Linked DNA regions of Homo sapiens. The protein of the gene in region 3 purifies or fractionates together with the protein of the main gene of each other region. This does not show direct contact. Each region holds a gene or a part of one and is shown on either strand. Other genes may lie near its edges. The genes, in order: MTMR1, RABGGTA and RAB6B.

Region 1 (3,253 bases), on a different chromosome or scaffold from region 3:
GAGATGCTGTTGGCTTCAGGAGCTTTTCACCATCCAGACTCCTGGAGCGGCCAAAGTCTCCTGAGGCGTTGACCGATCTCGCGTCAGGTGGACAATGGGACCCCATCCCATGAGCTTTGGCTGCCACTGAGGCCGCCCTGCAGCTCCGGGGGCCGAGCCGCTGAGCCGGGATGAAAAGGCACCATGGGGAGGCTCCCACAGTTTCTCAGAAGACAAGCAGGCACGGGGACACTGCGCACCATGGATCAACCGAGGGCGCCGTGTGCAGACTCGGCACGAGCAGTGTCCTAAAGACTGTGCGTCAGAAATGTTTCCACGCAGACCCCTTTCCAGCATCTCCATTATCTCTGTATTTTTGCATTTTTATAAATAGCTCTGCTGACTGAAAATCCTTCTGTTAAATCAGCACTTTTTACAACTTGAAGCTGTGTTTTCATCAACCGGAGCAGGATCTGCCAGAAGCCCCCCGGAGCGGGCAGTGCCGGCAGGGGGGTGGGGAGCCTCCCCAAGGACCAACCCCTCCCTCCTTGCTCAGCATCACCGCAAGGCCTCACCTTTAATTAGCTTTTCTCTTTTAAACCCATCAACTGTGGGGCAGGGGTGAATATAAACAAGAAAGGTTTTCCCGGGGCATATGGGACATCCAGTCCTGCTATTTTATAGTCATAGCACCCAACCCACTCGCCTAACAAGCTGTCCCCAGCAGCTACTAGGAGGCCAGACATCCGAGACCCAGCTTTTCTCACCTGGAGCTCTTTGGCTGGGGGCAAGGCTGACCAGAGTGAGGGGTCACCGACTGGGCTGAGGGAGAAACAGGGTGGGGTCTGGGGAGCTCCCTAGCCTTCCCTTGTCTCTGATCCCATGTGTAAACAGCAGCCACAGGGCTGGCTCCTAAGCCTCAGCCAGGCCATGTGACTGGCCACTTAACACCTTCCAGGGACTTCTTCCCCCTGCCCTGAGAGGGGCCTCGAGGCCCTCTGCAGTCTGGCCCCAGCCTGGCCCTCTGGCTCATCTTTCACCAGGTCCTTCCCCCACTCCCTCAAAGACTGAGCTGTTCCACCGTGTGTGCCAATGGTGATCAGCCCTCCTGGAGGGAAGGGGGAGACGGAAGGAGGATGAGAGCGAGACCGCAAGGGGGCAGCCAGGTCCCTCTAATAACAAGGTGCTCAGTAACCAGCACCCAGTGGGCTGAGAAGAAATGACCCCCTTGGGCAGGCCACAGGAAGAACAGAGGGGACAGGAGTGGAGTGTGATGGCAAAGGCAGATCCCACAGGCCTCTGGGAGGTGGCACCAGCTCCTCTCTTACCCTTAGGACCCATCTGGCATGCGTTTTCCTGTCTGTAGGATCATTTAATTCTGATCAGACAAGGGACGCCTTGCAATCAAGTTCCCATTATCCATCTACAGGCATGTGACCTCAGCAAGAAGCAAGACACGCAGGGAAATACACCACTGACACACACCCAGGGCAGACCCAGCACTGCTCAAACGCACCACTATCATCTCTTCACCAGCTGTTTGCATCTTTTCTCACCTATTTCTTTTCTTTTTCTTTTTTTTTTTTTTTTTGAGGCGGAATGCAGTCTCACTCTCTCCCCCAGGCTGGAGTGCAGCGGCACGATCTCAGCTCACTGCAACCTCCGCCTCCCGAATTCAAGCGATTCTCCTGCCTCAGCCTCCTGAGCAGCTGGGATTACAGGCGCCCGCCACCACTGTGTCTGGCTAATTTTTGTATTTTTAATAGAGATGAGGTTTCACTATGTTGGCCAGGCTAGTCTCGAACTCCTGATCTCAAGTGATCTGCCCGCCTTGGCCTCCCAAACTGCTGGGATTACAGGCGTGAGCCACCGCGCCTGGCCTACTCACATATTTTCATTTGCAACAAATCAAGGGCATGCCTGAAGGAATAGAAAACTCGGAGGCTTAAACAGAGGATTGTGTTAGAGAAAATTCCCATCTAAGGGCCAGTCATGTTTGCCGCATGGGTACTAGCATCACAAGACATAAGGCAAGACAGTCCCAAAGGAAATAGGACGCCCCTGGGCCTTCCACACCCAGCCATCCTCTGATGGATGCCCAAAGAACCCCTTTCTCGGCAGCCAATCGAGCCACTGCCTTCTCAGAGAAAAGAGGCCCAACAGGCTTGCATCTGCCCTGTCGTTTACCCCCCTGCACTCCCTCCCCTCCCCTCTCTTCCTCCTTCTCTCTGCCTCACCTGGCTCCTCAGGCCCTGTCACTGGACACCCACACCAGCCACTGATCTCTGCCTGTCTTCAATGCACTCCCCCACCCCCATTCCCACACCTAGGAGGTGTCCGACACATGCCTGTTGCATACAGGATAACAAGCTGCGGCCCATGTACTCTTTTTTGGTTCTCTCTTCTGTGTAGCACAATGGAGGGAGAATGCAAAAAGCAGGACCACACACCTACTACCCTCCGAGCACAGTGCACTTGGAATGGATTCACTTCCTGCTCAGCAACCCCCTGTGAGGTCCCCGTGAGGCTCAGGACCCTGCTGCAGATCAGGCGGTGAGTCACTGCCAGAGACGGGATCTGGCCCTGTCGGGGGCATCCTTCCACAACTACACGCACTGGGCAGCAAGATTTCAACCAAGTCACTGCTTCTCTGACCCTTCCCTCATTCTCTACGTCGTGGAATTGCTGGGAGCGTTAACTGGGATCATGTGTGTACAGAACCCACTGGCACACAAGAGGACTGCAGGTTATAGGCGCTGTCGCTGTGGTTTCCATCATCATCATGATGTTGCAGGTGGCTTCGCCTACATGAGTGAGAACCTGACCACATCTGGGAACAGATCTGTCGCGCAGTTTGTAGGTTTTAGGAAAGGTCTGTTACCTGCCTCACGCGGCGGGCAAGAATCTGAGCCTGGGTGCACCCCTGTGGGACACCACTCTAACCCTCTCTGCTGGTTCAGCATTTCTTCACCTCTGCAACCTGCTGCACAAGGGGGAGCGTGGCAGGGGTACGGGGGTCTCCTGCAGTAATCGAGAGGCTCTGTTTAGCCAAAGGCACTCCAGATCAGGCATGGTTCTGTTGGATTTTCTGCTAATGTTCATGACACTCCACCAACCACCCGGGCCTTTGAGTCACCAAGAATATCACCTGGTAACCCTATGTGATTTCAGTAACATAGTGACTTCTGACACTCTGTAGCCCATCTTCCCTGTTGCCAAAATAGATGAAATAGAAGCCACCCAGGACAGAATAACTCAGCAAGATGCCTAAGTA
Region 2 (3,707 bases), on a different chromosome or scaffold from region 3:
AGTTTCCTCATCAGTACACTGGGCCTAAAAATCTCATCCCTGAGACTCTGTGAGGATCAAATGGTATCAAGTATTCTCAAAGGTACTTCAACCGTAGAATGCTACTCATGGGGACCGATAGTGTTGTTCAGGCAGGACGGAGCAAGGACACCCTGGCCCATTCCTGGGAACGTGGAGCCCTTGAGCCTCCCCAGCTATGGTGAATGGGGGCCAGGGCAGGGGGAACATGTGGAAGGTGCAGGGGTCATGGGAAAAAATTGTATGATGCTTCCAGCTGGAGAAACTCACAGCTGCTCTGTAGCTTACCAGAGCCAGAACCTGAGCCCAAGCCCTATTCCTGCTTGGAATCTAGACCCAGTCCCAGCCCCCACCCCAAACCAGAAGGTAAACAAAAGCTCAGCCTTCACCCTGAATTCTGCCCCAAACACTGAAGCCTTGGCTCTCTCTGAGAGGAAACAATAGGATGGCGCAGAAAGAAGGAGCTGGCAACACCCCATGTCTCTTCCCTTTCTTTTCAAAAAATAAAAGTGATGAAGGTGGTGGTGTAGTGATAGCAGCGACAACAGCTTGGTAGCCTGAGAGGGCCTCTCCATTCTTTATTCAGTCCCAATAAGTTAAAGGGCAAGGGTAGGGGGCAGGGCCTCTTAGGTGAGGACGCTGCTAACTGAAGGCAGCAGTTCAGCCAGTTGCTCCAAGATGCCCACCGCTTGGCACAGCGGGTTACCCTGCAGGTTGAGGAGGACCAGCCTGGGGCAGGAGGCAAGAGGCTGGAGCACTGCAGGCTGCTGGAGGCCTTGTTCAGGAGAGTCAAGGAAAGCTTGGCAGGTTCCTCCCAATTTATTTGCTCCTGTGTACCCTCAAGAGCTGGGGACTGCTGCCTGGAAGTCTGTTTGATGGGCATCTCATATGCTCCCTGGAGGGAGTCAGGCTCTAGGCAGGGACTGCAAATGCCTACCCACAGGGTCAGCCAGGAAAGAATGAGCCGCAACACCCCACGCAAGCTGGTGTAGTATCAGGGGAGTGGTGCAGGGTATGATAAGGTGGAAATCTAGCCTGGTCCAAAGAGACATTTACTATTCAGCAATGACCAAGGGCTGCTGAGTGAAAATACCAGTGTAAGGTTGCTCTAACTTCCAATTTTTAAGAGAGGAATTAGAACTCTAGATGTTTTTTAAAGTATGAAAGTTCCTGATTTTCAAAAAACTACATAGACCTGAAGAACAGCTGCGGGCTGCCCATTTGTGAACTCTGACTTGAGGAAGTCCACTCCGCACAACTCCACCAGTGCAGGTCAGTGATAGCCCGACAGCCCCAGGCTCTCCCCCTTCAACTCACACTACAGAGCCCCCTCTCTCCTGCCCTGCAAGAGGGTGGCACATACCCTGCCTGCTGTCTGTCCCTTCCCAGGGTGGCACCTCACTTTACCCACTGTCTGAAAGGCACCCAGAAGGAAGGATACGGTTGTTGCACAGTAGCAGCTCCTGCAGCCGGGGTAGGTTGGTGACGCCGTCCAGGGACTCTATGGCATTATCACTGGCCTGCAGCACCTGGGGGCAGGGAGGGCAGGGAGGCAGGACAGGCGCTGTCAGCCAGGGATGGTTCAGCAACTGAGGAGCTCAGGGTGACGGGTCCACAGAGCACAGAGGGGCTCACAGGGTCAGGCTGCGTGATGGAGGTGGAAGGCACGCAGTTACCTGTTCGGGGTGGAGGGTCCTGCACATCTCCTTGTAGGATGGGCAGACTTCTGAGGGAGAGGAAGAGGAAAAGAACCACCCGTGACAGGGACGGAGACATGGGTACTTTACCTCAAGGCAGCGCAGGGCAGCCAGTGCAGGTGGCAGGGTTCGGAGGCGATTGTGTGACAAGTCAAGATGGGTGACCAAGAGCAGCTGTTCCAGATGGCAGAGCACTGTCAGATCCTGGGGGGTGAAGGGAGGAAGGAGGTGATGGGCTTCCCAGGAGACCTGGGAGAGGGTCCTCGGCCAGCATTTATTAGGCACATGCCCTCTGTGCCCCACAGGCCCTTGGGGACCCCAGCCAAGAAGAGGATGGGAGCATGTGGGAAGCTGACCTTACAGCCCACAGCAGTACATGACGTGGGACAGACAGTGCTGCGAGTGGGGTAACCAGTGGGGTGGGTGAGGAGGAGGAGGCCTGGAGTTCGGAGGTACAGGGGCCAGTGGAGGGTGCTGGGTAAACAAAGACTGGTCCCCCATGGGGACTGGTCCTGATGAGGCAGAGATGAGTTTGGCAGGAATGGAGGTGGGCTGTGGTGATGTGATAAAACTAATGTGTTGGGAAGGACTAGGAAAGTGGAGCCTGGACAACTTCTCAGGAATCTCTGGAAAGTATTTGGCCTTCAGGTATTGGAGGTTGCTCCAGGGTGAGATGTGCTGGAATGTGTGGGAGGAGTGGGCTAGCGGTCACTCTGAAGGAAGATGAAGCTGTGACCAGCCTGGGGAAGAAACAGCACAAGGAGGTCCTGGTGACTCGGGATTTGAAAGTGAGTGGCAAGAAGAAGAATGGGCTGAGTGACAGAAAGGCCTGGAAGAGGAGCAAGCTGGGAGGCAGGGATGAACTCTATCTTGATTGGAAGTCCACAAAGGCACCTGAGACTGGGGGCAAAGTCAGGGACGTGGGGAGGCCAGCGGGATGAGGGCCAGGGGAAGGCATGCATGGCAGCCCATACCTTGTGAGCCAGGTGCAGCACACGCACCTCGGCATACTCCATCTTGAGCACGCTATTCTCCAGCAAGAACTTGCTGCGCAGGTCATCCAGATACGTTGCCCGCATGGGGTCCACGGCCTGGAGTGGATGAGGTGGGCAGGGTATGCATGTCAGCTGCCTGCCTCCTGCCTGCTGGGCCTCCCCCTGGTCTGTTCTGCAGACAGAACTTGCCTTGAGGGTCTGGAAGTACTGCAGGGTCTCCTTCTCATACAGCAGGGGGTCCAGTGCCCGCATCAGCAGGATGATGGTAAGCAGGCACCCTGAGGAGAGGGCAGGGAAAAGGAGGGTTTCTCTTGGAACCTCCTCTGCTCCCATCCTCCTGAGGCCTTCCTGCTGTCCTCTCAGGGCCACACTGGAAAGGGGTTTCCTCAGCGGGCTCTGGGAGCAGACTCTCACGGAATGGGGCCTCACATTTATTCTCAGGCTCCAGCTCCTGCAGCTCCTTACAGGATTCCAGCTCAGACTGCAGCACTGTGGACTTCTCCACTGACAGCTCACACCTGAGGGTGGGCAGGGTGGGGAGGAGTTGAGGCCCACAGCCCTGAAGCACTGGTCAACATTCCCAGTATCTAGACTGAAACAGCTCCTTGAGGCCCCAGCCTCCTGCCCTGGCTGCCTGATGCCCAGAGTCCAGAGCCCCTCTCCTTGTTTTGTGCTTCCCTATCACCACCTGAATAGCTGCTCGTCTGTCGTGGAGTCCCGGCACCAGCCCTCCTGGCGGCCTGGGGAAAGAGTAGGTGGTTGGAGGGTGCACCCTTGAGAGGAAAAGAGTGATGGGGGCTGCTGCAAGGGGTGGAGGCTGCAGGTTCCATCACCTTTTAAAAGCACGCATTCTTTCTGGACATCGCCTGCTGTCCAAATGACGCGAAATGTATGTTGGGGCAACTGGTCGTTGAGGGAGGCAGCAGGCAGGTCACAGAGCTGGGAGTACTGGGTCAAGGAAATGCCCCAGCCTAACCACTTTTTTGACTGTCCCACC
Region 3 (3,647 bases):
GATAGGCCTTGCAGGGCAGAGCAGCTATAAGGCAATACCCACCACTCGGCAGCCTGCACACCCAAGGGGAGGGGAGGTAGCTGTCCTCAGAAGCCTCAGTTTCACACAGCCTGGTATCCCTTCTGATGTGCCTCAGGCCATGTGAACCCAGGCCCTTGCGGGCCCAGCTCCCACCTGCACTCAGGTGTGGAGGGGGCCTGTGGTCAGAAGAGAGGTGGACAGAAGGGGTGGGCAGAGCCAGGGCAGCAGGCTGGGTGGCGGGGGCATGCACCAGCGCGGGGACATGCATGCTTCCTTGTGTGATTTTTAAGGCTGTGGACAGCACCTAGGGCATTCGCCCACTTCAGGGTAACCACAGCCCTGAGGGCTTATCAGGTGTGTTCCATTACAAGAGCCTTGCAGGTCTGGCCTCTGCCTCGGCCCCCCACCCCCACCTCTGGCCCTGTGCGCCCTTGAGGCTGTGCAGTCCTGTTAAGAACACCTGCCCTGGCCTGAAGAGCCACAGTACTGGAGAAGGGTTACCAGCCTACTGCGCTTCCAGACCCCCTTGCCTACCTTCCCAGGGAGTCCTGCACCCACAGCTGCTGGGCCGGGGTTGGCCTAGGGACCAGCGTCTTCTCCCATGGTGACACACATATAGAAGTAGCTCCTTAGGGAGCTTTCTGACAGCCAGGGAGAGGGAGGGTGCAGAGAGGCTGGAGCAGGGCCAACCTTGTGAGCATCTGCTCACACCACAAGCTGGCCTCCACTCCGAGCAGGACCAACCTGGCCCTATAAACCCCTGTCGGTTGCAGGAGGGTGGGGAGCAGTGGAAACCATGTTGGTGTTCAAAGGCAACTCACCACTGCTCCCTGCCTTTCTGCATTCAGGGAGCAATCGCACACACATGCGTGTGCACACACATGCGTGTGCACACACATGCACACAGGCCTGGCCAGGGTCACACCTGGGCCCTGGACCCCCTATGAGCCACCCTCCCTTAGGAGCAGAGCCTCACTCACTTGTGATGTCGTACACCACCACAGCCACCGTGGAGTCCCGGATGTAGCTGGGGATCAGGCTGCGGAACCTCTCCTGACCAGCTGTGTCCCAGAGCTGCAGTCGCACCTGTCTCAGGGAGGGCAGGACCATGGGCAGAGGGGTCAGTGGGGCAGTGAGGTCCTCCTGGTCCGGGGGACTGGGAGAGCCGGGCTCTGCAATGCTGGCATCACCAGCTCCAGCCCCTAGTGTCGGCAGGTGCTCTCAGTGGTGCCCAGCTAAGGGTCCTAGGGGATAAGCCCAAAGGAACCCTCCCTGCCCCTCCCAGTCCTGATATTAGGTGCTCACCGTGCGGTCCTCCAAGTACATGGTTTTTGACAAGAAGTCAATCCCAATGGTTGCCTGTTAGAGAAAAGCACAGAACGGTCAAAATCAAAAGGTCTCATGCAAAGGGGCAAAAGCCTAGCGACCACAGGTGGTGGCATAACCAGCAAGAGGGGACGCTCATGTCAGGTCTAATGTGGCCATGCTCTGTCCTCCCTGCCCCTCCCTGCTACCACTCAGCGGCTCTCTCACTGAGGGATCAAGCTGAGGAAAGATGAGGGTGGCCTTTATAGGGTGAGATCTTCTCTGGAGAGGGCAAGTGCTTCAGAAGCAGTGAGAGCGCAGTGGTGAGGAGGCCTCCCCAGGAGCAAGGCCACTCAGGCCACTCAACGCACATATCCTGCCCTCCCCACCTGGACTCCCTGCCTTGTTCCCTTCATGGCCTAACCTGCAGCTTCCAAAGCCTCTTCCCTCTGCCCTAAAGCATGGGCCTGGGCTCAACACTGACCTCGGGAGGGTGGGAGGCAGGGGGCAGGAGCAGGCAGCTTGCTGCTGTGTGGGTGCAAACAGCAGCATGGCTTTTCTCAGGTGCGGGCACTGCAGACCACCCAGAGTGGCCTCTCGCTGGGAGGCCCCACTGGCTCTTTTCTCCCCAAGCCAAAACATTGGAAGCTGTCACCAGCTCCCCTGTGCCACACCTATGCCTCTTCTGCCCTGGCACCTGTGAGAGGCAGCCAGCCTTGTGGCCAGATGGCCAGGACCCACCACTCACTTGCTGTGTGGCCTTGGGCAGGCAACCAACCTCTCTGGGCCTCACAGGCACCCGGTACCTGTCAGTAGGACTGAGATGCTGTCAATGTAAAATGGAGATATCACTGCTATGTAATCAATAATAACAAAGACTTGGACACAGCCTGAATGTCCACGGCACTAAATAAGCATAGTGTGGTATATCCATGTGATTAGAACCCTTGGCAGCTGTTAACAATCACATTCTTGAAAAAATATTTAAGGATTTGGGGAAACGGTTATCCAGTTAAAAAAACAAATAAACAAAAAACAGGTTATAAAACATCATGTGGCGAGTGATCCCAATTAGATTAACTCAAATAGATCTATGAGTATTTTTCATGTTTTCTTAGACACTGAAGTGAAGGGAATCTGCTAACATGTTAATAGCATCACGGTCTGAATAGTGACAGAGCATTTTCTTTCCTTCATTACACTCCTTCATTACACTTTTCTCTACTTTCCACAATGAACATATAACAGTACTAAAATTAGAAAAAGTCCTTTGAAATAAAGTTTAATAAATAAGTTTAATTGTGTGGAATGCCATGATTTTTGACTGCAAAAAACACAACCAAAGGAAGCCCAAGAAAATAGAAAAGGTCATATCTCCAGTCCCCCCAGGCTGAATGCAAAGGTATGCACCAATGTGTGTGCACAAGTGTGCATGTTTACACAGTCACACTCCCAACTCGTTCCACAAAGGACTGAGACTGGCTTGCACCCTCCTGGAAGCTTGCCTCATAACACAAAGATATGGGGGGTCATTCTACGCTCTGGAGCATACGATGCTAGAATGTGGGCACTAGACAAAACACCTTAGATACAATCCAATCAATCCCTTACTTTGGAGATGAAAGAACAGACCAGAGGGTTAAAGGACATGCCTAGTGTGACTTCACTCATCAGTAGCAGGGCTGGGAAGATCAGAGCTGCAAACTTGGCAGCACCTGGGCTCTTTCTACCACAGCTTCGCATAGTGTAGCCACCGAGGCACAAATCTGCAATGACCAGTGCTTGTGGATGCAGACTTTTTCCTTCACAGGTGTATGTTAGATTGACAATCCTTGTCTTCTGATTCCCTTATGGAGAAATGTGCATAGCAGGTAGAAGTCTCTCAACTCCTCAATGCTCAACAGGCTCCCCAGGAGTGACATGCTCCTTTTGTAGAGTCACCTTTGAACTAAAACCAGGTGCATGAGCTTAGGACTGGTGGCAGGGACTGCTGGTTGTCCCCAGTATGTAGTTTCCCTTTCTATAGTAACAGAATTCTGGGTGTGCAGATGGACTCAGGGCTGCCCCAAATAAAGAACATATTTCCCAGCCTTCTTTGCAGCTGGGCGGCTACATTCTGGTTAATGGGATGTGAACGTGATGTAGGCATCTTTGGGGTCAGGTCCTCTGTGGGTAGGGAGTACCCACAGCTGCTCCCTTTCCCACTGTCCGGTGGGGATGAGTCATAGTGGCCCATCCAGATGAGGATGACAGAGGAGCGATGACATCAACGAAGGCTGACTCCCTGACCCTGAGGAGCTACTTCAGCAGCGCTGGACTGC

Evidence for each region.
Region 1: the proteins of RAB6B (region 3) and MTMR1 purify together in Homo sapiens (co-immunoprecipitation; 3 studies listed by BioGRID and IntAct, with this or other methods). This does not show direct contact.
Region 2: the proteins of RAB6B (region 3) and RABGGTA purify together in Homo sapiens (co-immunoprecipitation; 3 studies listed by BioGRID and IntAct, with this or other methods). This does not show direct contact.

Annotation. Positions count from the first base shown.
Region 1 is NC_000023.11:150,759,249-150,762,501, reverse strand, and holds part of MTMR1 (phosphatidylinositol-3-phosphate phosphatase MTMR1), read right to left. Parts: intron 1-3,253. UniProt on the Homo sapiens protein: Lipid phosphatase that specifically dephosphorylates the D-3 position of phosphatidylinositol 3-phosphate, generating phosphatidylinositol. Could also dephosphorylate phosphatidylinositol 3,5-bisphosphate to produce phosphatidylinositol 5-phosphate.
Region 2 is NC_000014.9:24,264,971-24,268,677, forward strand, and holds the end of RABGGTA (geranylgeranyl transferase type-2 subunit alpha), read right to left. Parts: intron 3,650-3,707; coding exon 3,544-3,649; intron 3,451-3,543; coding exon 3,399-3,450; intron 3,229-3,398; coding exon 3,140-3,228; intron 2,989-3,139; coding exon 2,900-2,988; intron 2,807-2,899; coding exon 2,690-2,806; intron 1,920-2,689; coding exon 1,806-1,919; intron 1,548-1,805; coding exon 1,460-1,547; intron 794-1,459; coding exon 645-793; 3' UTR 568-644; downstream 1-567. UniProt on the Homo sapiens protein: Catalyzes the transfer of a geranylgeranyl moiety from geranylgeranyl diphosphate to both cysteines of Rab proteins with the C-terminal sequence -XXCC, -XCXC and -CCXX, such as RAB1A, RAB3A, RAB5A and RAB7A.
Region 3 is NC_000003.12:133,840,284-133,843,930, forward strand, and holds part of RAB6B (ras-related protein Rab-6B), read right to left. Parts: intron 1,381-3,647; coding exon 1,327-1,380; intron 1,108-1,326; coding exon 1,002-1,107; intron 1-1,001. UniProt on the Homo sapiens protein: The small GTPases Rab are key regulators of intracellular membrane trafficking, from the formation of transport vesicles to their fusion with membranes. Rabs cycle between active GTP-bound and inactive GDP-bound states.